2 separate regions of the Homo sapiens genome follow, and region 1 is linked to region 2. Evidence: fine-mapped QTL for protein levels in blood plasma. A gene starts in region 2. The other region holds a variant in brackets. All regions are shown on one strand. Distances are from middle to middle. Region 1 overlaps STX7 (syntaxin 7). Region 2 holds the start of STX7 (syntaxin 7).

What was found. A credible set is the group of variants that fine-mapping cannot tell apart. PIP is the posterior inclusion probability: the model's chance that the variant is causal. The UK Biobank Pharma Proteomics Project read protein levels with antibody pairs (Olink). The fine-mapping took linkage between variants from a reference panel, not from the people measured, so its PIPs are less certain.
Region 1: its variant is the best candidate, but not a certain one, in a credible set for the plasma level of the STX7 protein (UK Biobank, PIP 0.61).

What each region holds. Positions count from the first base shown.
Region 1 is chr6:132,466,952-132,479,082 of GRCh38, forward strand. It overlaps STX7 (syntaxin 7), which reads right to left. Exons shown (of 10, transcript NM_003569.3): 3 at 8,642-8,711; 4 at 5,331-5,424; 5 at 4,512-4,649; 6 at 3,623-3,675; 7 at 3,000-3,096; 8 at 1,452-1,524. Among named protein-coding and RNA genes, the nearest start is that of STX7, 40 kb to the right of the region's middle. The variant T/C (reference allele first, on the strand shown) is at 7,194.
Region 2 is chr6:132,506,158-132,518,288 of GRCh38, forward strand. STX7 (syntaxin 7) reads right to left here and starts at 6,959. Exons shown (of 10, transcript NM_003569.3): 1 at 6,850-6,959. RefSeq lists enhancers at 6,207-6,708, 7,066-7,265 and a silencer at 6,426-6,915.

The sequences.
Region 1 (12,131 bases), 39 kb before region 2:
AAAAAATATCTGAAATCCATGAACTTCTCACCATCCCTCTAGTTCCATCCTAATCCAAGCCAACAAGATTGAGCATCTGGATGACTGCAATAGCCTTTTAGGTGACCTCCTTGCTTTTGGTCTTTTTCCAGCAGCCAAGTGAGTCTTTCGAAACTGAAGCAGGGTTATAGCACTCTTCTGCTCAACTCCTCCTTGGCTTCTCATTCGTTTGTAAAAACTGAAATCTTCCTACCTGACATCATCCCCTGCACTTGGACATGATCTCCATCTCCTTCTTGCTCATTAAAAATGTCAGGTATGCTTCTGCCTCAAGGCCTTTGTACTCGCTGTTCTCTCTGCCTGGAACACTTTCTCTTACTTGCTCCCTTAAATCTACCAAGGGTTCACTAAAATGTTACCTATCAGTAAGTACCTATCATACCTAACTACCCTGTGTCAAGCAGCAACAATTTCCACCCCTAGCAGTCCCATCCCTCTACCCTGGCCTTATTTTCTCCATAGCACTTATCACCATTTACTTGCTTTTCTCGCCTTTTTAAAAAATTGTCTTTCCTCCCATTATAAGATCAATTGAGATAGGGTATTTTATCTGTTATTTAATTTCAGCTGAATCTCCAATGCCTAGATTTGTGTCTGGACATAGTAGCCACTCAACATATTTCGGATGATGAATAAATTGGTTTTTGAAATTTTACCCTGTGATCTACTGGGGATACAGAGGAGGGTAAGAATGGATAAAAAATAGTTACACTGAAGTAAAGGTGCAAATATTTCAGTTGGACCAAATTCAGAAAATATACTAAAAGCATCTTTAGACATACCAATACATAGCTCCAGACTTCAAGATGGTCAGGATCCTGATGAATGTTAACAACTACACCCTAATTGAAATGCTATTACATTCAATACTTAAGGGATTCTTAGCAACTTTAGAAAAGAAAATCACTTCTAAAAAGAATTCCTAACTTCTATGTAATACTACTAAATTCATCTACCAAAAAGCTATTAAAATGAATGATTAGGCAAATGTCTACCTATTCCCTAATACCTAAAAGACAAGATGTCATGCACAGTTACATATACCACAAGTTTCCCCAAAAGTGCTTAGCATGATGACAAATAAATTGGAGTAAGACTAAAACCAGAGGCCCTGGAAATAAGCTGGAATAATGTTTCATGGTGCCTTCCATGGTCTTGGCAGCAATAGGCCCTGATTAAATTTGGGCTTCTGAAATAAATGAAGCTGGTTATTTCAACCAGCACGAGTTAAAAATGAGATCTGTTTTAGATAATGCCAAGGGTGATGCTTACTGTGTTTTATAGACCATGCTTTTGGTTCCAGGGAAACCAAAAAAGGGACAGAAAGTGGTTACTCTTCTGTGAGAAAGTTACAGCAGGTAAAGTGCATGTAGCTTGCTCTCACCTCCAAAATCTAAGTCAGCAGGTCTTACCTATTACATCTCCTTGTTCATGAATCATCATTCCCAAATCTTTAAATATTTCATTAATATCCATAATATCAGCCTAAGAGAAAACGCATATATTATTATAATCAGAAATTCAGTCCCCATTCCATAAAAGAGGAAAAATTTTAAAAACCCAAACCACTACTCACACATGGGTGAGCATGCATCTATAATACACAAATATAATACATAAACTTTGGAAATATCAGGAAAATATTTGACAATAATTAAGAAGAATTTGAACAATAGCCACCAGTTCTCTAAAATCAGTTTGTGGCATTAAAAATACCAAGTGAGCGAGGCAGGATGGAAATGAATGGAAATGAAGGATCTATAATAGAGAAGAGCCATGGATTGCTGAGTTCATTTTATACAACCTGATAGTTTTGTTATCACAAGCAGTATCTACTTACAAGGGTATAAAATATTCTTAGCATGTATTTCTAGTAAAATTTACACATCAATTTGACAATTTAAAGTAATAAAACATTAGGTGTAAATTTAAAGTCTCACATTAATAATTTGAACATGCAGTGGATTAGTGAAATGTCACTACTGAATAAAGAAGTTATAAACTTGGTGATTAAATATAAATTTACTTTTCTTCAATGACACAATTAACTGCTTCATAAAGTTTTTATAAGGACTAAATGAGATAATTAACATAAAGAATTCATCCCACAAGTGCCTGGCACATGGAAGGTCTTCAATAAATTGTAGCCATTGTTAGCTATTATTAGCCTTCTTTCTAGGAACTAAGTAGGTTCCATAAGAACTATGACTTAATAAATCCTTTAGATCTCTTTGATGTCATAAACATAGTAAAGAGAAATAAAATTCTTTGAAGGCCTTATAAAAGGTCTTACTCATGCAGGTATGATGTGTATCATGTGCTCTGGGAAGACATCCAGACTCTTGGACAGACATTTATCTCTACACTGGTATTTTCTCAATACTAAGGTGGTCCATAGATGGCTTGATATAACAATAATAATTTTTAAAAAGCTGCAGTAGGAGGGAGTATGATCCCTCGTCCTAGCACAAACAGTAAGGACAATATTATTTTTTTAAAAAAGGAATTATTCCAACTCATACATTACAAATGCTACCAAACTGATACATTAATTTTCTTTCTCTGGGCCAGACATGGTGGCTCACATCTATAATCCTAGTACTTTAGGAGGCCAAGGCAGGCAGATCACTTGAGACCAGGAGTTTGAGAACAGCCTGGCCAACATGGTGAAACCCTTTCTCTGCTAAAAGTACAAAAAATTAGCCAGGTGGGGTGACACGTGCCTGTAATCCCAGCTACTCAGCAAGCTGAGGCACAAGAATCGCTTGAAGCTGGGAGGCGGAGGTTGCAGTGAGCCGAGATTCCACCACCGCACTCCAGCCTGGGTGACAGAGGGAGACTGTCTCAAAAAGAAAACAAAATTTTTCTGTCTCATGCATTCTCCCAGCATTACCTAAGCATCTTGAGAACAAACTCACTAAGACCAGAGCAGCAGCCCAAGTCTACAATGTAAGCCTTACTTCAAGTTGCCTGATAGAAGATTCTCTCTCATGAATAAGACGGAGGTCATCCTCTGTAATTTCTTCATCCTGCACCTGCACTTGAGGTTGAGTTTGGCTAACAGAAAAAAATGAATGTGGAAAAAAACAAAGATTGGTATTCAAAACAATGGGACTCATTTCCTATTTAAGATATATTCATTAAATAGGATATTTTATTCTCCAAAGTCACAGAACTACTCAAAAAAATTCTAAGAATATAACAGATATATTAATAAAATTTATTCATTTTTCATTTCACTTATATCATTTTAGCTAATGTGAGTTTAGAGTTATTACTTAATTATTGGAAGCTGTATCTGTCAACTGGGTATTTCTTCTCAGCTGATTTAAACCTCATATAAGGGAATGTCTATATTAATAATTAAGTCCATAAACATTTATTTGGAAAACTTTATATATTTTGTAATAAATACTTTATAATTACTTAAAATTTTTTTCAAATTTACTCTGTTTTCAACATATAAACAACTTAGGATATTTATGATATAATATATTGAAAGCTTTAATTCTGTTCCAGGGACCTTAATGTATAAACTTTGAAAAATTACCTTTTGATCTGTAAAATGTTTTGTATTTCTTACCTTTCCCAGGATACAAGATTCCTTTCTTTTGAGCTGTCCTCAGGAAAACTGCCCTGAATAATTTAGTAACAGGATGGAATGAGAAGGGGCAAAAAAAGCAAAAATGAGAAAAAATAAACACTCATATTTTCCCTTATAATAAACTAAACTGATTTATGTACGTGTCTGTGTGTATGTGTGTGTGTGTGTAGAGACAGAGAGAAAGAAGTTCTTGTTCTAATTTTTCAGGTCAACTGCTTCAAGTAATAATATAATTATAAGTAATTTTATATTCTAAGTAGACAAGAAAGGAATTCACTAAATATTCTCAAGGATCAAATAAGTATTATTTAGTTAAAGCTTAATGTAGTCTTGGAATCCATATGTTAATGAATAAGAAAATAACTCATGATAGTTTCTAAGGGAATTTAAAATTAGATTAATTCAAAATTCTATTGTAAAGCTTCCTTTCATTTATTTTCTCCAGGCTCATGTTCATTTTCAATATTGATACAACATACTTGCGCCATTCATCTCCGTCATCTTGGTGTAATCCAGGAGGAAAGTGCTTTCTACACTAGCGTGTACACAAGCAGAAAGCCTCAGTACCAAGACGATGTGAGAATACTACTCAGGATTTGATCCCTAATCTTTTTTGACAAAATATGTCTCTATATTTTTATATACTCTGTAATCTTCTGTACTATGACACAAAAAATCACCACCGTAATACAAAATTATCATCCTTTTCTAAAAATGGAGCAGGAAAGCATAAAAATAAATATTCAAGAGCTGATTTCCAAGATATTCACAGATCTTTATGACTTAAAAAATTATGCTACTATAGACTTTTATGGGACCCTTAGCAAGTAACCATGTTCATTTCTAGAATGTCTTTTAAAATACTTACAGACACTCTGGAACTGGCTCTTACTCGAGCAACAAACTCTTTCTCTCGCTCAGCAGCCTGCCTCTGGACCTTCTGGAAGTTTGTCAGTGATGTTGTGAACTCTGCCACTAAGCGATCCTTCTGTATTTTCCTTTGACGCTAGAGGAAAGAGAAGAAAAAGCCAACTAGAATCTAGCTGTGAAGTTCAACTGAATTTGCGGTAGTTGGCTCTTTATTTAACCCTGAAGTTTTCACTTACTCCCCAATTACAGGGCCTTACAGATTAACTCTCAGTAACATTCTGATAGTATGTCAAATACTGTGCATATTTAACTTGAGGCAAAAGACCCATTATGCTGGATTTCTCACCTCAGGTTTTCACGCTGCTAAAAACTAGCTTATTATTTTGAGGCTATTTTAAAGTAATTCTTTTTCAGGCAAATAAAGCCTTATACTTTTAGCTAAGTAATAACTTCCATTAAATAAGCAGGGAAATAAATATGTGCCCCCAGGACACCTCACATCTTGAATGAGCCTGCATGTTCCACGCAGTCAGCCCCGGAAGGCCAGGAAATAATTACTCAGGAAGCATTTTCTGAGAACTAACTTAATTATGGGTCAGGGCAAATGCATGGAAATAATTTTTGCTTTATTGAACCACAGGATACTACCTGAGCAATTAAATATAGTTTTGTGTTCTGTGAACTAATCTCAAACAGAATTATTTTTGATTTCCTTTCTAGCATAATTTCCTTTCTAGCGTAACAGTTCAAAGATCCTACAGTGCACTGGGTTTTTTTCACATTCAATACATCAACAATGTGTCTTAAAGCTTGATACCTGTTCACTGGGGGTGGTGGGCAGAGATCCAAACTCTTTAATGTACTTATCTGTTTCTTTGGCAAGCTGGTTAGTATACTGCTGCTTCTGTTGCCTAAAGTGAGAAAACACGCATTACAGCCAAAGGACTAATATACTTCTTTAAGCTTCAACTCTGCCTTTTGAATCAACACTGATAAACAGTTGTACAAAAATTGCCTTTTCATAAACTGGCTCTCAACTTTCTCTATCAAAAAAAATTTCATATCCTATTCTTTGATAAATAATGAGCAAATATTATATGTCAGGTTCTTCACTCACACAGGGTAGGCAAGCTTAGAGAAATCAATTCAACGGCCATTTAGAAACACAGATGACTTGAATCAGAGGGAACCTGAAGGAGAGACTGTTAGATGTCTGATCCTTTATGTTTGAGATACTGGGGATGTGGAAGCCCTTTATCTGCATCTCACACCTGGAAGGTCAGGTAAGCAAGAAAAGATTTGTTACCTTAGACTTTGCCCAGTTCCCAGATCTAGTTATATCTGGCCTCTCTTATTTCTCTATGTGAACATGTATATGCTATAGATACTTAAAAAAAAGGCGGGGGGGAGGGGCCAGGCATGCTGGCTCACACCTGTCATCCCAACACTTTGAGAGGCCGAGGCAGGCGGATCACTTGAGGCCAGGAATTTGAGACGTGCCTGGCCAACATGGCGAAACCCCATCTCTACCAAAAATAACAAAAATTAGGTAGGTGTGGTGGAGCATGCCTGTGATCCCAGCTACTTGGGTGGCTGAGGCAGAAGAATCACTTGAACATGGGAGGTGGAGGATGCAATGAGCTGAGATTGCACCACTGCACTCCAGCCTGAGCAACAGAGGAAAACTCTTGTCTCAAAAAATAAAAATAAAAAGGAAAGAGGCAATATTGGTACAAATTTACTATTATTTAAGTTTACGCTGGAAAAAATAATGGCATTTCCTTGTAAAGGGAAAGAACACAATAAATAAAAGAAGTAAATTATAGTCATCCCTCAGTATCTGCAGATTGGTTCCAGGACCCCTGTGGATACCAAAATCCGCTGATGCTCAAGTCCCTGATATAAAAAGGTATAGCATTTGCATATAACCTATGCATATCCTCCCATATCTTTAAATCATCTCTAGATTATTTATAATACCCAATACAATAATGTAAATGCTATGTAAATAGTTGCTATATTTTATAGTTCAGTTTTTTTTTTTATTATTGTGTTGTTTTTTTTTTTTTCTTGAATATTTTTGACCTGCAGTTGGTTGAATCTGGGGATATATAATCTATGGATACAGAGTGCTGACTACATATCCATATTTTATCTAGCTATCTTATAAATTGAAAAGATTTCCAACTTAAAAACATGACACTAAAAAAAAGCTCATATTAATTGTGATGTTTTACAAATCACAACATCAGTACCTCTTATATATTTCATCTCATTTTAAATATGGTCTGGTCACACTTGGGGTCCTTTAAAATAATGAGATATTGTATAAGAATATGCTTAAGAATAGGGATCTGTATTTGACTGACAAAGGGTAATTAAAATCTATTTCTATCTCTATTTACCAAATACCCTATCTTTAATGCATTTTTGTAAATCTCTGGAAATCATAATATAGTCAAAGTTTTAAAAAGAAGACCTTAGGCTGGACATGGTGGCTCATGCCTGTAATCACAGCACTCTGGGAGGGTGAGGTGGGTGGACTGTCTGAGCCCAGAATTGAAGACCAGTGCCGGCAACATGGCAAAACACCATCTCTACAAAAAATACAAAAATTAGCCAGGCATGGTGGATGTGCCTGTATTCCCAGCTACACAGTAGGCTGAGGTGGGAGAATCGA[T/C]TGAGCCTAGGAGGTCCAGGCTGCAGTGAACCGTGATAATGTCACTGCACTCCAGCCTGGGTGACAGCATGAGATCCTGTCTCAAAAAAAAAAAAAAAAAAAAAAAATCCTTAGTGACTACGGATATATATTCAGAATCTTCATTATTAACTCTATCAAAATATTAGAACTTTTATGAATTATGTACTTCTATTCCATTTTACTTTAGTTTAATGAATTGTGGTTTATTATTTAGATTTGGAGCATTTTTACCATTCTGACACTTACCCACTGTGGAAAAATAAAATATAAATTAGAGATAATTGTAAGTCCTTCAAATTGTACTTCCTAAAAATATGAATTCCTATTACCTATCTTTTAATATCGTCCTCTTTGCAGTTTTCCCTCTATAGTTAATGTTGTTTAGAAGTATTGCTTACTAGATATATGTGACTTGAAATTTACAGCTGTAACAGTACTGAAATAAAATTTAAGAGTTAAGTTCTAAATGACATTGGGTAACTCGTTAAACCCGTAAGAGACATGAACAAAATGGAAACAGTTCTTTTGGTCTATTTCTCTTACTCTAATTCTGTAAGGTTTAAATGATAAAATATGTAAAAATACTCTGTAAAATCCACAACATACCACAGACAAAATATTATCACTATGACTGCTGGTCTTCTAACAGCATATTAATTTACTGGAATATGTACTATATAATTCATTATAACTTTTTTTTAAACGGAAGCTAATGCTCTCTGAAATTCAAGGATGTAGGTATAAACTTGTGGGGAGACAGCTCACGTAGCTGGTTATGTATTGGATCTAAACCAAATAAAACTCTGGTGACTGCGGGGATTTTTAGCTATGGAAAGTAAATCACATAAATTGAGATACTAGAGTATAATTTTTCAACAGCTGTCAAAAACAACCTACCTAAAAACTGTAAGAAATGCAACTAAAGAAATTCTGCTTTGATAGGGTAAGCCTATCAAGGAATTTTTTTTTTTTTTTTAAGACAGAGTCTTGCTCAGTCGCCCAGGCTGAAGTGCAGTGGTGTGATCTCGGCTCACTGCAACCTCCGCCACCCGGGTTCAAGAGATTCACCTGCCTCAGGCTCCTGAGTAGCTAGGACTACAGAAGCTCGCCACCACGCCTGGCTAATTTTTTTATTTTCAGTAGAGACGGGGTTTCACCATATTGGCCAGGTTGGTCTCGAACTCCTGAACTTGTGATCTGCCCACCTCAGTCTTCCAGATCTTTAATATAAAAACACCTGCCTACTCCAGACAGGGAAAAATCTACACAAAAGCTTGGTACAAATGTATGGATAAGGTAGCAGAAAAACTCCATTGTTTTTCCATTTTTTCTTCCAGTAAACATAATATACTACATACTGTAAAAGCAACAGAATAATAGCAATAGAGTTTTTTCTTTCTCTTTTATTTATTTAACTAGATACTTACAACTGTTGCCTCAATTCAGGTGAATCTTGAGGTGTTCCAAGTTGATTCAGAGTTCTTTGTATTTCCACAGCTATTATAATAGAAAATTCATGTATTAATTGTCACAAAAGTTAAGGTAACAGAAAGAGTTAAAAATTAATATGTACAAGCAATTGGGCAGTTGAAAAGAGACAGAAAAACAAAGATGAAAATAGAAAATATTAACTGGAAAAAAGAATAACTAAATGGTTTACTTAAATCTAATTAGTAACAAAAATTTTCAAGAGGAAATTGTGTGAGAATGTTAACTTGTGAAAATGCACTTATGACCCAAAAATACTATCTTCTTCCTTATCCCATCAGGATATTATTAAGTAAATACAAGGGCACACAGACTTTAACACTACTAGCATAAAAATTGTGAGGAAATAAGTAACAATTACATATTTCATTAGAATATAATATAAATAAGTTATTGTTAATAAATGAGAGGAATAGAATTACAAAAAATCATTTTTCAATTATCCATGTAATAACTGATTTCAGCAAGGTCATCAAAAAATGCTAAAATCACAGGACATTCATACAACTTAAATTACCACCACACAGATGACATTAATTACAAAAGATATAACTTTATCATATATAAATCTGTTGTCTGAAAACAAATGACCAAATTTAGCAGTGAGAATGGAAAAAACTGACATTATGAACCTTGTGGCATGCTGCAGCGAGAAAGCCACAATATGATCTGAGGATTTTTCTTGCCAAAATATTTAACATGAATCTAATCACAAAAAGAAATTAGACCAGTCTAGACTGTGGGACAATCTACGAGATAACTTGCCTGGGCATTTAAAGACGTCAATGTCACAAAAGGGAAAAAAAAAGTTGACAAAGACAGAGGTGCTTTCTAAATTAAGGAATTAAAATACCCAAAAGACACTGTATGATTTTTGACTGGATTCTGAATCAGGAAAAAAGCAAGCACTATAAAGAAAATCATAGGGACAACTGGAGAAATTTGAATACAGAAAGTAAAAAACACATTAAACAAAAGTTGAAAAATGCCCACAACTGGCAAATCCAGGTGAAAGGTTCATTGTACTATATACTTATATATATATTTTGTGAGGTTTAGAAAAGATTTTAAAATAAAAAGTCCAGGGCTTAAAAGTCATGTTAAACTCACAATCCGGAAGTCTATGACTATTGCAATTTTTTTAAAAAAGGCTCTACACAAAAGGGGAGGACCTACAGTTTTATGTATGTGGGGACATAAATAAAATGTCATGGTACATAAATAAAACGTCAAGTAGAAATAAGCTGAAAATCCAAAGAACTCTTAACAATCTAACCCCCTCATTCTTTTTATTTAAATGAGTGGTTTACTTATATAGCTTAAATGCTTTAAAACTATTCATTATTTACATGCTCAAGGGAATGATAAAGTATTACAAAATGCAGGATAATTTTGGTCACCGCGAATGATGTAATAAATACTGCTTTTAAGTGAAAGCTGAAAAACAGAAACACTAGAGAAGAATCAAAGCATATAGCAACTCTTAGCATTTGGCTAATTTAATAGGAATTTATTTTTGCTTTTTGGGGGTTGATTTTTCCTTTCATAAGACAAACAAATTTTGTTTGCCGTGTTTAACTTATGGCTGCTTATAATTAGCTATATATTCCCTCTCAACCTCAACAGATTTTCTTGAACTGCCTTATAGGGGCTTTATTTTCTTAAGCGTATTGATAATACAAACTGTAGTATGGGCATCGATAGACTATTGGCAGGTATTTATCTCAACTCTAAAGTGTTATTGTTCTTTAGGAAAAAATCATAGCAAGTGAGAAAAAATAAATTATTTAATAAATGACACCAGGAAAACTGACTAACCATTTGGGCAGGGGAGAAAGAACCCTACCTCCCAGCATATAGCAAAATACATTTTTAATAAACCATTAATTTAAATAGTAAAATTGAAAATATTAAACTGCTCTAAGAAATATAAATGTTTTTATTATATGATCTTATACATGATCTTGGAGTAAGAGATATAAAATATTAGCTAAGCATGACACAAAACTAAAATCCACAGAGGAAAATATTGACAAATTTGACTACATAAAATAACTTGGTTAAATGTTATACAAAAAATGTGTACATATATCACAAGTATATATGTAAGTGTGTGTTCATATACACACAGGAGACAGTAACTGCAGGTTATGATGAGGAAAGAGGTTAAACTACAATGGTAATTATTTTTGGTAACAGAACAACAGCCCAGTAAAAAATGGACAAAGGTTATAATCTTGCAATTTACAAAAGGCAAATGTGTACATAACAAAACTTCAACTTCACTGATAATTAAACTTTTATGTTTCTGATTGGTAAAAATTATGAAAAGCAGTTGAGAATATAATTACAATCAAAGGCCTTAAAAACAAAAGGTAAAGACTACATAATATATAAGAAAGAGGGAGCAATAGTCAATAACTATAAATAATTTAGAAAATGTCAGACAATCCAGTAGAAAAATGGGCCAAGACACGTGTATATCTATATAACAAACATGCACGTTCTGTACATGTATCCCAGAACTTAAAGTATAATAAAAAAAAAGAAAAATGGGCCAAGAATAGGAACTTTAATATTCATGAATAAACTGAATAGCAAAAAAAGGACCGAAATGCATATCAATTTTGCAAAGTACAAACAAGTACACCACATGAATGCTATATAAAATTACTCAGCCAATTAAAGAATTGAGTAGAAATGGATTCTGACAGGCCCAATGGGAGCCTAGTTCCACCATGTGGTAATTTCCGGTTTCTGAACAGATATACTGAGCAACCCCCAGTTCTCACTCATACTCCCTGAGTAAGGGCTCTTATGGAAGGAAGAAATCATTGGAAGCCCCTGGGGACCCACTCTAATAAAAAAATAAAACCAAGGGCATTATCTATTCCCTGGGAATTACTCAGAAATGCCACCATCAAGGACAGAAAGAGCAGGGAGTGGACATGCCTCTCATTCCCATTTAACCGGCCTATCTGGAGAATGCAGAAGGCTAATGCTCATGATAACTAGCAAAAGCTTATTCAGGTGGTGACTCCAACTGCACTGTTCCTCAAAATGTGATGGATTTACTACAACAGAGCATCACAATCTCTAGCAACCTGTATATACCTGCTTATATGGCAAATACTTTTTGCTCTACCCTAAAGGACAGAGAACATGAGAAAGGATTTGCTATCAATGGGATGGGACATCAGCGAGCCTTCACAGGCTTATCTCACGGTTATGCACACTGTCTATCTTTGTACTACAATTTCGTTGTCAAGGATACGGATCATCTCCTCCTACAGGACACTACATTAGTCCAATACACTGGTTACGTCTGCTTTTAGGACCAGAAAAGCAGGAGGCAACATGTACTCTTAGATGCCTGCAAAGCATAAGTAAGCCAGCAGGTAGAAAATAAATCCATGAAAATACAGGGCA
Region 2 (12,131 bases):
TAGGGAAAACTCTTCTGGACATTGGTTTAGGAAAAGAATTTATGACTAAGACCTCAAAAGCACAGGCAACAAGACAAAAAACAGACAAAATGAGATTTAATTAAACTAAAAAGCTTTTGCACAGCAAAAGAAATAATAAACAGAATGAACAGACAACCTGCAGAATGGGAGAAAAATATCTGCAAACTACACATCCAACGAGATTAATATCCAGAATTTACAAGAAACTCAAACAACTCAACAAAAAACCCCACAAATAACCCCATTAAAAAGGGGGCAAAGCACATGAATAGACATTTTTCAAAAGAAGACATACAAATGGCCAAGAAGCACATGAAAAATGTTTAACATCAGTAAGCACCAGATAAATGCAAATTAATACCACAATGAGACATCATCTCACAACAGTCAGAATGGCTATTAAAAATTCATCCACAAACACATCTTGAACGGAAAAAAAAGAAAAAAAGTCAAACAAGTACAGATGTTGGCAAGAATGCAGAGAAACAGGAACACACACACTGTTGGTGAGACTGTAAAGTAGTACAACCTCTACAGAAAACAGCATGGCAAGTCATCAAAGAACTAAAAATAGAATTAATATTTGATCCAGTAACCTCGTTACTGGGTATCTACCCAAAAGAAAAAAAAAACCATTATACCAAAAAGATAATCTGCACTCATATGTCTATTGTAGCAATATTCACAAGAACAAAGATTTGGAATTAACCTAAGTGCCCATCAAGTGTCTATTAACATTCCTGAATGGATAAAGAAAATGTAGTGTATATAAATGCAATGGAATACTATTCAACCTTAAAAAAGACTGAAGTTATGTCTTTCACAGCAACACAGATGAACTGGAGGCCATTATCTTAAGTGAAATGACTCAGAAAAAAGTCAAATGCTGCATGTTCTCACTTGTAAGTGGAACCTAAATAATGTGTACACATGGACAGAGAGTGGAATAAGAAGACATTGGAGACTCAAAAGGATGGGAGGGTGAGGGATGAGAAATTACTTAATGCGTACAATGTACATTATTCAGGTGATGATTACACTAAAAGCCCAGACTTCACGCTATGCAATATAACCATGTAACAAAACTGCATGTGCACCCCTTAAATTTATATAAATAAAATGGCTTTATTGAGATATAATTTATTGAGATATGGCAATACAATACACCTACTTGAAGTACACAAGCCAATGGTTTTTAATATATTTACAACATTGTACAATCATCACTTTTAGAACATTTCTATTACGCTAAAAGGAAAGTTTGTAATCATTAGCAATCGCTCTCCATTTCTCCCCAACCTCACTGGCCAAAGGTGACTACTAATCTACTTTGTATCTTTATAGCTTTGCTATTCTGGACATTTCATAGGAATGGAATCATACAATGTGTTCTTCGAGACTAGCTTCTTTCTCTTAGTATGCTTCCAAAGTCCATCTGTGCTGTATCATATATCAGTCCTTCATTCCTTCATTATTGCCAAATAATATTCCTTCATTATTGCCAAATAATATTCCAAGGTATGGAGAAAGACAATTTTCTCTTGGTTCAATGACATCTTCCTTTCTCCTTTCCCTCTATCAAGTAGATCTCTGGAAAAACTGGCTTACAAGCCAAAACAAACACATTGAATGAAAAAATGTTCAGTTTGTTATTCATGTAATCTCTGGGGATGCTCCTCCATATACATGGTTCCATTTTAATCTATACCTGAATGAGTCGCACATCCATGTCTCCAGCTCGTACCCTTGGCTTTCTCTCGTGTCTACATGTCTGTGAAGCTACAAGAACTCAGCCATTGCCTGTGCGGCACACCATGGAAGTAGCAACTGGAAATTTCTACTTTGGGCAAGACACTTAGCATTTGGGCCCACTGCCAGAATCAAAATGAGATAATGCACATCCAGAGAACAAATGCTTTTCCACCCTACACAGAGGAAAGTTATGATCTGTTCTTGCAGCTGCAGGACCAGCATCAGCACAAGACCAAGAGAAACTCATCACCTGTCTCAAAACCATGCAAGCACACCTGAGGCCTACTCTCTCTCCCATAAAGAGTTCCATCAAGTCAAGGACAGTATTCTACAGCATTTTCCTTACCCTTAAAACTCACACCAGTGTAGCCCAAGTCTTCTCACTGTTTTCTTTCAAGGCCACCTTTTTTCCTCTCTGGAAAATCAATCACTTAGTCACAAACACAATCAATTTTCTTCATCCCTTTCCTCAAGCTACTAAATGTGAGAAAGTTCCTGCTGGTGAGACAATTGGCAAGTGGCTTCATTCACCCAAAGAGGTGCTACTTAGATTGACTGGAATTATGAGTTTTGTTTTACTTTTTCTTTGTTTGGCGTTGTTGTTGTTTGAGACAGGAGCACCCAGGCTGGAGTGCAGTGGTGTGATTACGACTCACTGCAGCCCTGACTTCCAGGCTCAGGCAATCCTCCCATCTCAGCATCCCGAGTAGCTGGGTCCACAGGCACCTGCCACCACATCCCACTAATTTTTTGATTTTTTTATAGAGATGGGGGTCTCACTTTGTTGCCCAGACTGGTCTTGAACTCCTGGGCTCATGCGATCCTCCAGTCTCAGCCTCCCAAAGTGCTGGGATTACAGGTTTGAGCCACTGTATCTAGCCAGGAATCATGTGTGAAGAATGAAAAGCAATTTGCAAAAGATAGAGAAGAAAGATGTGTAAAATAAAACAAAGTTAACAATGGCCAACACTCATCCAGGACTTACATTTCCTAAGCATTGTGCTTATGACTTTTAAATTTATTTTCTCAGTTAATTCTTATAAGCCTATCATGTGGGTATAATTGCTAATGTGATTTTTTTACATGAAGAAACTGAGGCATATCATTATGCCTCATTATCATTATAAGCAAAGGAGCAAATATTTGAAAATAACCACAGAGCCGACATTTTTTAAACACTAAGCCATACTGCTTCCTTGTATAACAAAATTGAGGGCAGGTGAACTCAGTTAGAAAAACCAAATTTGGGCTGGGCGCGGTGGCTCACGCCTGTAATCCCGGAACTTTGGAAGGCCAAGACAGGCAGATGACAAGGTCAAGAGATTGAGACCATCCTGGCCAACATGGTGAAATCTCATCTCTACTAAAAAAATTAACTGGGTGTGGTGGCATGCGCCTGTAGTGCCAGCTACTCAGGAGGCTGAGGCAGGACAATCGCTTGAACCCAGGAGGCGGAGGTTGCAGTGAGCCAAGATCACGCCACTGCACTCCAGCCCGGCGACAGAGCGAGACTCGTCTCAAAATAACATAACATAACATAACATAACATAACATAACATAACATAACATAACATAACATAACATAAAATAAAAAAAGACAAAAGAAAAACCAAATTTACCACTTTTCTGCATGCCCCATATGAAGTTTTGCTATTCCCACTCCTAAGATGAAGGAATATGTTTGGGATAACTACATGAGTTGATCAAGGTAACACAGAGGAATAGCTTACTCCTTTTCTCTATTATTCTGCTAATAAGTGGTATCTAAAAGGCAACAACAGTTGGCTCTTTTGATAATGAGACACACAAAGGAAAGGAACCAAATGGTTGTCTTTAAAAAATATATATACAAGCATAGACAGACAGGATAGGTAACTACAAATTGATTAAAAGCTTATGATCTCTGCATATAGGCTAAATGGATGCTGAGTTATTCAGATGTCTGCTTTCCACATCAGTCTCCATTACCTAGCCCAGAGCTGCTACGCACTAAAGTACTCTTGTTGAATACTTTTGAAAGCCCACTCAGAATTCCTATTTAATTGCTCAGAATAATAATTATATAATTCATTACCTAGACCTGTACTAACAGACTAGCCACTAACTAAATGGGCTGTTAAAATTATAGTGGTTACTAGAAGCAGAGAAGGATGGCGGGAAGGGGATAGCCAAAGGTTGGTTAACTAACACCAAAATACAGCTAGGTAGGAGGAATGAAGTCTAGTGTTCTATACCCCTAAAAGGTGACTACAATTAATTACAATTTATTGCATATTTTCAAATACTTAGAAGAAAGAATGAATTGTGAATGCTCTTAACACAAAGAAATGTTAAATGTTTGAGGTAATGGATATGCTAATTACCCTGATTTGATCATTACACATTGTACACATCTACTGATGTATCACATGTATCCACAAATATGTAAATCATTATCTGTCGATTAAAATAATAAAAGCAAAAAAATCTTATTACAGGTTATTTTAAGCTGCTAACAAGATAACTGATTGCAGTAAGAAACTACACTTTTACTCTACATTTCATTTTTTCATGTGACAATTTACACCATTTTATATTGTGTATCACTTAAATTACATTGTAGCTCTCGTTTTTAAAAAATTAAAATTAATTAAAATTAAGTTAAATGAAAAAAATCAGTTCCTCAGTCACACTAGACACCTTTCAAATGTTCAAAAATTCTGTGTGGCTAGTGGCCAGCAGCTTGGACAGCTCATTCATAGACCACTTCCATTATCACAGAAAGATCTATTGCACAGTGCTAATCTCCACATTGCAATAATCATCTTTCTATGAAGATATACAAACACTATAAAGAGAAAAACAGGAAGGGAGAATCAAAGTGCAACACTCAGATGAGAGTCTTCTCAAGACGGCTTCTAAAGAACACAAAGGAATGAACAAAAGGAATGTTAAAATTTAATCTTGAAGTGTCAAACACTACTCCCAGTTAAAATCCGATATACTGTAGAATCCTTAAGATTTCCATTTAGCATATATCTCATGCTCTATAAATCTACCCTGGGCAAAGAAGTAGTCAATTTCACTTTCTTAATCATTAGCATCAGCATAAACAACTGGACTTCTCTATACCCTCTACCCCAAGTAAGTTCTGAGGGGTGGGGGGTGAGCATTTTTTTGTCTGTTTTGTGGACTGCACTATTCTCACTGCCTGGCTACATCACAAGTGCTTAACAAACATTTGTAGAATGAATGAATGTACCCACCTCCTAAGAACACACACCCAGCGTGAGGGTAAATATTACCATTTCCAAAACATAAAATTCCAGTGCCTTCTTTCAGATACCGAAGGTCCCAGGCTTCTTGCTGCCTTGGGCCTTTGCTGGGTGCCATTTCCTATTTCTAGAAGGCTCTTCCCATGATCTCCACGTGACTGGCTCCTTCTCCCCAGCAAGGCCTCATCACATGCTAGAGAAACCTTTGTGACCACTCTGATATGAAAGTGAGAACTCACCACTGGTCACTCTTTGTCAATCTAACTTACTGCTTCACAATACTCAAAAGTCGAATTAATCACTGTTTATTATTTATCCCTACACCTCTGGAATACAAACAGGAGCTACTTCTGGAATATAAACAGGAGAGAGATGACCTTGTCATCCTGTGTAATCTACAGTGCCTGGTGCATAGTAAATGCTCAAGGAATGTGAGGGTGCTCTGTCTACATAAGTATCCTCTGCAAAAACTACATTAACTGTATTCTTTGGCCTTAGCTCTTTCATCACTGACCTTTTGTACTACTTGGTTTTAGTTCACAATACCGAGGATTGTTTTTTTCATACTTTCACACATGAAACTTGCAAATTAAATGGAATCACAGCAAACTTCACTCAGACTTACTGTGAATATTTTCTATAATTTACTTTTCAATCATCAGCACTTAAAGTTTGGGGTCATAACCAAAATAAGGATTGATTTTGTTATCAAGAGCAACATAAGTAACATATCTGAGGAAAAATTATGATGTTAATCAGTTAATATGGTATCATATTAACCTCTACAGAAACTGTGAAGTTAAGAGCATAATTCTTAACTAGTCACGAGTCTGAGGCCAACTTCTCAAAGTAGCCTATAAGGCCTGTCCACAACACAAAACACAGTTTAACACCGTTATCAGCCTCTGCCCAGGTGTGCTCAGAGAACCTGCAGAAGAAATGTCCACTTCCAACATTATTAAATAGCACAGCATTTCATAATTACTTTCTTTTCTTCCAGATTCTGGGCAAGTTTTATATATTATATATAATTATAGTCAGAATACAACGATCTGAGGTAAACAAAAATTAACGTATACAGATAAGAGCCAAACAAATGTAAGAAATTTGTGGGAAAAAACACACAGCATTTGATCAGAAATGCAACTTTTTTTCTTTGTCTGAATTTAAAGAAAGTAACTAGAAAACAAGGTGGAGGAAATACTAGAAATATTTTATGTACGTTTAAAGGTTTTTATGTAAATTAATTAAAGGTGTATACTCAAAGAATGTCAAAGTATGTTAAAGTCATCAAGCCAAATTAAAAAAACAATACTACGATCCTCTGAATAAATAAACATACACGGTTCGCCTGCTACAGCCATACATTTTTCAGTTCCTCTATATTCGGGAAGTTTAGTGTGTTTTTCAATCCGTGAGTTGAAAAGAGGAAGAGGTCATTTGGTCGTGTCTGGATTCCTGAGCTGGGCCCCAGCCGGCTCTGGCGCCCTCCCCGGGGTGCGCTCCGCCAGCCGTGCGCCTCCGGAGCTCTGCCCAGGGGACCGCGGCGGGTGCGTGGCTGGGTAGGCCCACCTGACCACAGCCGCGCGCACCCGGAATGCGGAACGCGCCGCGCCCTTGCACCCGGCCGGGGGGCGTGGGGAGCCGCAGGCGCTCCGGGAGCTGGGGCAGTCCCGCCCTTCCTAGCCTCCCGAGTGCCTGCTGCAGAGCGCAGGGCGGCGGCCACCTGACCACGCGCACAAACAAGAAGGCGCAGCAGCCGCAGGGGCACCGCGCCTCCCTGTCGCCCGGCCAGGGAGCCCCCTCCCCAGGGTCCTCTTACCTGGACCTCCACGGCTCCCTCCTACACCTCCGACCGCCGTCACCCACCTACCCCGGAGCCCTCAGCTGCAATTCTCAGCTGATGGGCGGTGGCGTGGGGACGCCCAGTGCGCATGCCCGCAGCACAACTCAGGAAGAAGGCGGGGTTCACCCCTTTTCTATTGGCCCGCGGGGCTGAGTGACAGCGGCCCTCACCGCCCCTCCGGTTCCAAGCTAAGGAATGGGGGTATCAGCAAAATTGCAAGGGAGCTGTTCTTTGAAGCCTGACGTAGAGATGGTGAACGCCTCTTAGCCTGCGTGCAAAAAAGGACAGAATGGAGGACAGTTGTCTTCTTTATCTGGTGAAGCCAGCCTTCTTGCACGCGGGTCTTCACCCCGCCCCATTAGCTCTTGCCTGTCTTGTTTGCTAACCTTTAACTGCAGTAGATCGCGTTGACAGCTCTATCGAAAAATGCAAAGGCGAGTACACAATCCTAGCAGGAACAATGAAGGAATAAGTGAAGAGTCATCTCTGGGTGCTCACTTGTAAACAAGTTTTCCTAGTACATACAAGTCATTCTAAGCATTCCTGAAAAGCAGGGCGTAGTTTTCACAGGGTTTAAAACAAGCAGAGACAGTTCCAATGATAAATATGCAAATATATTGTAATTGTTAGATGAAAAGCATCAATTGCTACAAATGAAAGAAAGCCCTCTCCAAATTAATTAGAAGATAGATTGGCTTAGCCTTTGCCTATATTAAGGCAACACTATTTTCTAAAATGATTACCCGGATAGGTGATATCAAAAGTCCAGACGCACTTAGGTGGAAAAAAACAAAACCCAGGATAGAATTCTGATTGGAACTCACCAACACTAAGTGTGGAATGTTGTCTGCTTAAGAGAGATGGACAGAGAAAGAATAACCCTGAAAACGAGTAACCCACAAGATAGGAAATAAACCAGGAAAAGGTAAACTAGAGAATGAAGGAAAAAAGGAGGGAATTGTCCATGATGTCACCTGTTACACAAAGTTCAAGTAAATAAAGAACTGAAAGTAGTGCATTGTACTTGAGAATTAGGAAGTGGCTGGTGAACGTAGGAAGAAACATTTCAATCATTGAAGGAACACATGAAAGGATCTTACATCCATGTGAGGTTTAGTGCACTTTCCAAATACCCATTCATATTACCTTTGATAGAACTCTGGGCTCCGGGGAGGGAAGGTACAATGCACTACAGAAGAACCTGAGATTAAGTGGCCTCTTCAAGTTACCCTGATAGTTACTGACTATGCTGGGCCCAAAACTTAGCTGTCTGAGCCCTCATCTTGGGCTCATTCCAATTCCTTGTTTTAAAATATGTTATGAGTGGATTCCTTCCAGGTCTTTTGAAAACTTAGAATAAGATTTCATCCTTTGGTATTCAAATGGGAAAAAAAAGAATTATAGTCTAGACAAACTTGCAAAATTTAGAAGTATTAAGATAAATGAATTACTAAGAGTTCCTGACACAGTATTCCATCTGTGAATCTGGCTGCTACCAAGTTAAATTCAGCCAGGTGTCTTGAAAGTGGTAGGGCTTTAAAAGTCTCCTAATTTGATGAGTGATAATGTCACATCTCCCAAAATAAATCATTTCCATGTGCAGAAGTTACCTATGACTGAAAGCTTGTAATTTGGATTTTCAGAAATAGTAATTTGCGAGATTTGGGCCTTCTTGGAGAGATTTTGAAGGAAACCAGAAGTTGTTGAGTGGGGAATGTTATCTGCACACTTGTGGTGTCCTTATTAATATAAATACCATAAATACCTCCTATGTAACATCTCTCATGTAGGATGGAGAACTGTCCACTGCTGTATCTCCAGTGTCTGGGATAGCAATTCCAGGGAATAGAAGGAGATAATTGCTGGTTCATTTAATAGTTACTGAACTAAAAATATTTTTTACATGACCACTATGTGATCTTCTGGGAAAGCCAAAGAAGTAAAAGACGCATAAAGGTAAATAGAGCAAACAGGGACTTATTGGTAAGTGAGAAGGACAAGTTGACTTATGAAGGTTTGTTTTTATTTATAATACAGTGGGAAAACCACAACTGGTTTAAAAAATCTATGCTAGATTAAAAGGAAGCTTAAATTAATACTTAATAAACAAGAGTTAGTTCAGTTGTGCCTTATTGTTAAGCACCTTCCATGTCTCTCTACAGTCTACTTGTTTTCTGTTTAAGATCACACAAGTGCCTAGTCATATATCAAGCACAGAATTGATTTTGCCCTAGCTTTTGAACATGGAGGTAATAAACAGATATCCCGTGGAAATCTTACATGGGCCATTATAGCATGATGACCGGTATATTTGTTTCTAATTTTACCTCCTGATGACTGGTATTTTCGTTTCTAATTTTACCTCCTAAGTGTTGTTCATATGTGCCCTCTTCTCTCTGTCCCTCACGGTTGACATCCTGATCCACTGCAATAGCCTCCTTGTTGGATCTTCTATCTCCAGGTCTTCTCAACTTTATTATTGTCAAAGCCACCACTGAATATTTGAAGCTCTAATCTGAGAACTTTGCTCCAGGCTTCATGCCATTTCCATGATTGCAGCATTCCCTGAACTGTATTTCTTAAGAAAAAAAACCAAAATAATTAGATTGGGGAGAGCTGGGGAATTGTGTGGGTTGAAATAAGGAATCAGGGAATTGGTCTACAAAGAAATGTTTGGGAAACATATTATATTGCATTCTTGAAGATTCACAGAGCATATTTGTAAATTAAAGACGCTGAGAAGTGGTTCAGGAAAGAAACAAGTAAAAATTTCTTTTACCCAGTATTTTATGAGTGTATTTGATGGTGGAACTTGCCTGTAAAACTTTTAAATATGCATAATGGAAAACACTGCTCTCAAAATCAAGTCCAAGCCCCCTGCATATACACAGGGTGACCATATATTTAGTTTGCTAGGACAGCCCTAGTTTATGCTTGTTGTCCTGGCCGCCTGTCTTCTGAGCATGCCCTTTCATTCTCAAACGTGCTTCAGTTCAGATGATGCATCATATGGTCCCTATACATATAAGGACCACATGGTCTGATCCTGCCTTTCCAAGCATCAAAATTTATGCTTGGAATATGTTGGCTTAAATAACTCCTCTTTCTCTGTCTGCTCTCCCCTCCATCCCAGCAGCTAGCTCCCCAGTCACAAACCAGGGGTTTTCTTATTTCTGTGCTTCGCTCACGTAGTTCCCATTAGCTAGAAAACATTTTTTCTTCTCCCCCATGTTTTAAACGATTCTTTATTTTGGAATAATTTTAGATTTATAGAAGAGCTGCAAAGATAGTACAGCACTCCTGTATATACCTCACCCAGGTTCCCCTAATGTTTCCTTAATGTTAACATCTTACATAACCATGGTCCACTTGTCAAAACTAAGAAATCAGCATTGGTATAGCAGTACCAACTAAATTAGCTTGTATTCTCCCTGCTCCAGCTCTAGAATCAGTCATTTTACTATTAAGCACTTCTTCTTTTTATTGGAAAAAGCTATTTAGAAATCAAAGGCCAGGACCACCAGGCACAGTAGCATGGCTCACACCTGTAAACCCAGCACTTTGGAAGGCGAAGGCAGGCAGATCATTTGAGCCCAGAAGTTCGAGGCCAGCCTAGGCAATGGGGCAAAACCCTGTTGTGATGGTTAATACTGAGTGTCAACTTGATTGGATTGAAGGATGCAAAGTATTGATCTTGGGTGTGTCTGTGAAGATGTCGCCAACAGAGATTAACATTTGAGTCAGTGGGCTGGAGAACACAGGCCCACCCTTAATCTGGTGGGCACCATCTAATCAGCTGCCAGCAAATATAAAGCAGGCAGAAAAATGTGAAAAGGCTAGACTAGCCTAGCCTCCCACCCTATATCTTTCTCCCGTGCTGAACGCTTCCTGCCCCTGAGCATCCAAGTTCTTCAGTTTTGGAACTCGGACTGGCTCTCCTTGCTCCTTAGCCTGCAGACAGCCTATGGGACCTTGTGATCATGTGAGTTCATACTTAATAAACTCATATATATATATATATATATATATATATATATATATATATATATATATATGTATTCCATTAATTCTGTTCCACTAGAGAACCTTGGCTATTACACCCATCTCTACAAAAATTAGCTGGGTGTGGTGATGTGCACAGTAGCTATAGTCCCAGCTACTCAGGAGGCTGAGGTGGGAGGATTGCCTGAGCCCAAGAGGTCAAGGCTGCAGTGAGCCAAGATCATGCCACTGCACTGCAGTGTGGACAACAGAGTGAGACCCTGTCCCCCACCCTACCAAAAAGAAGAAAAGAAAAGAAATCAAGATCAAGGCACTAACCTTCTCATTGTTACTAGGGTGTCAGTGCTTCTACGCTCCCCTCAATGGACAGAGCTAGGAAATAAATTTATATATACTAATTCATGTATGTAGGATATTTACTCCAGGCTTCATGCCATCCCCATGTTGGCTGCATGCCCCAAAATATATTTGGTAAAAATAAAAGTGCTTGGACTGGGCAGAGGTGGGGTTTGTGTGAGTTGGGGTAAGGAATCAGGGAATTGATCCATAGAGAAATGTATACAGTATACATTATATGCAGTATAAGCCTTGTATAAAGTATGTCTATAAATTTAATTTTACAAGAAACTGCCAAGTTGTTTTCCAGTTGTTTTACATATCCATAGCTATATCAGATTTTATCTATATATATAAACACGAGTTCATCTAGGCATTCCCAATTCTAATCCAACATTATAGGGGTCATTCTAGCCTTCCCTTGTCCTAATTTTTAGCTTCTTTCGCTAGAAGTGAGAAACCTAGCTTCCATTATCTACCATTTATGTTCTTATTTCTATAATGTAAAAAATTAGGTTGGTGCAAAGGTAATTGTGGTTTTTGCCATTAAACCGCAATTACCTTTGCACCAACCTAATAGCTTCAGAATTGCTAACTCCTACTCTGTGTGAGAAAAAAATCTTTAGTGCAGTGTTTATGTACAATTCTTTTTGTCTTTAGCCTTATAATATTGAGTCAAAACAATGTTTTCTAAAAATCACCAAGGTCGGCTCTTTACCCATCCCCTTCAGTGAAATTAGGTTATGTTGACTTTGCAGTTAAATTCAGTTGTCATAGATCTGCATTTTATCCTATGATCCACAAATATACTGATTGATTTTTTAAATTTGTATAAAGCTCATTGTTTGTGGTATATAGTTCTGTGGATTTTTGACAGATATATAGAGTAATGTATCCATAACTCCAATACCATAGAGAAC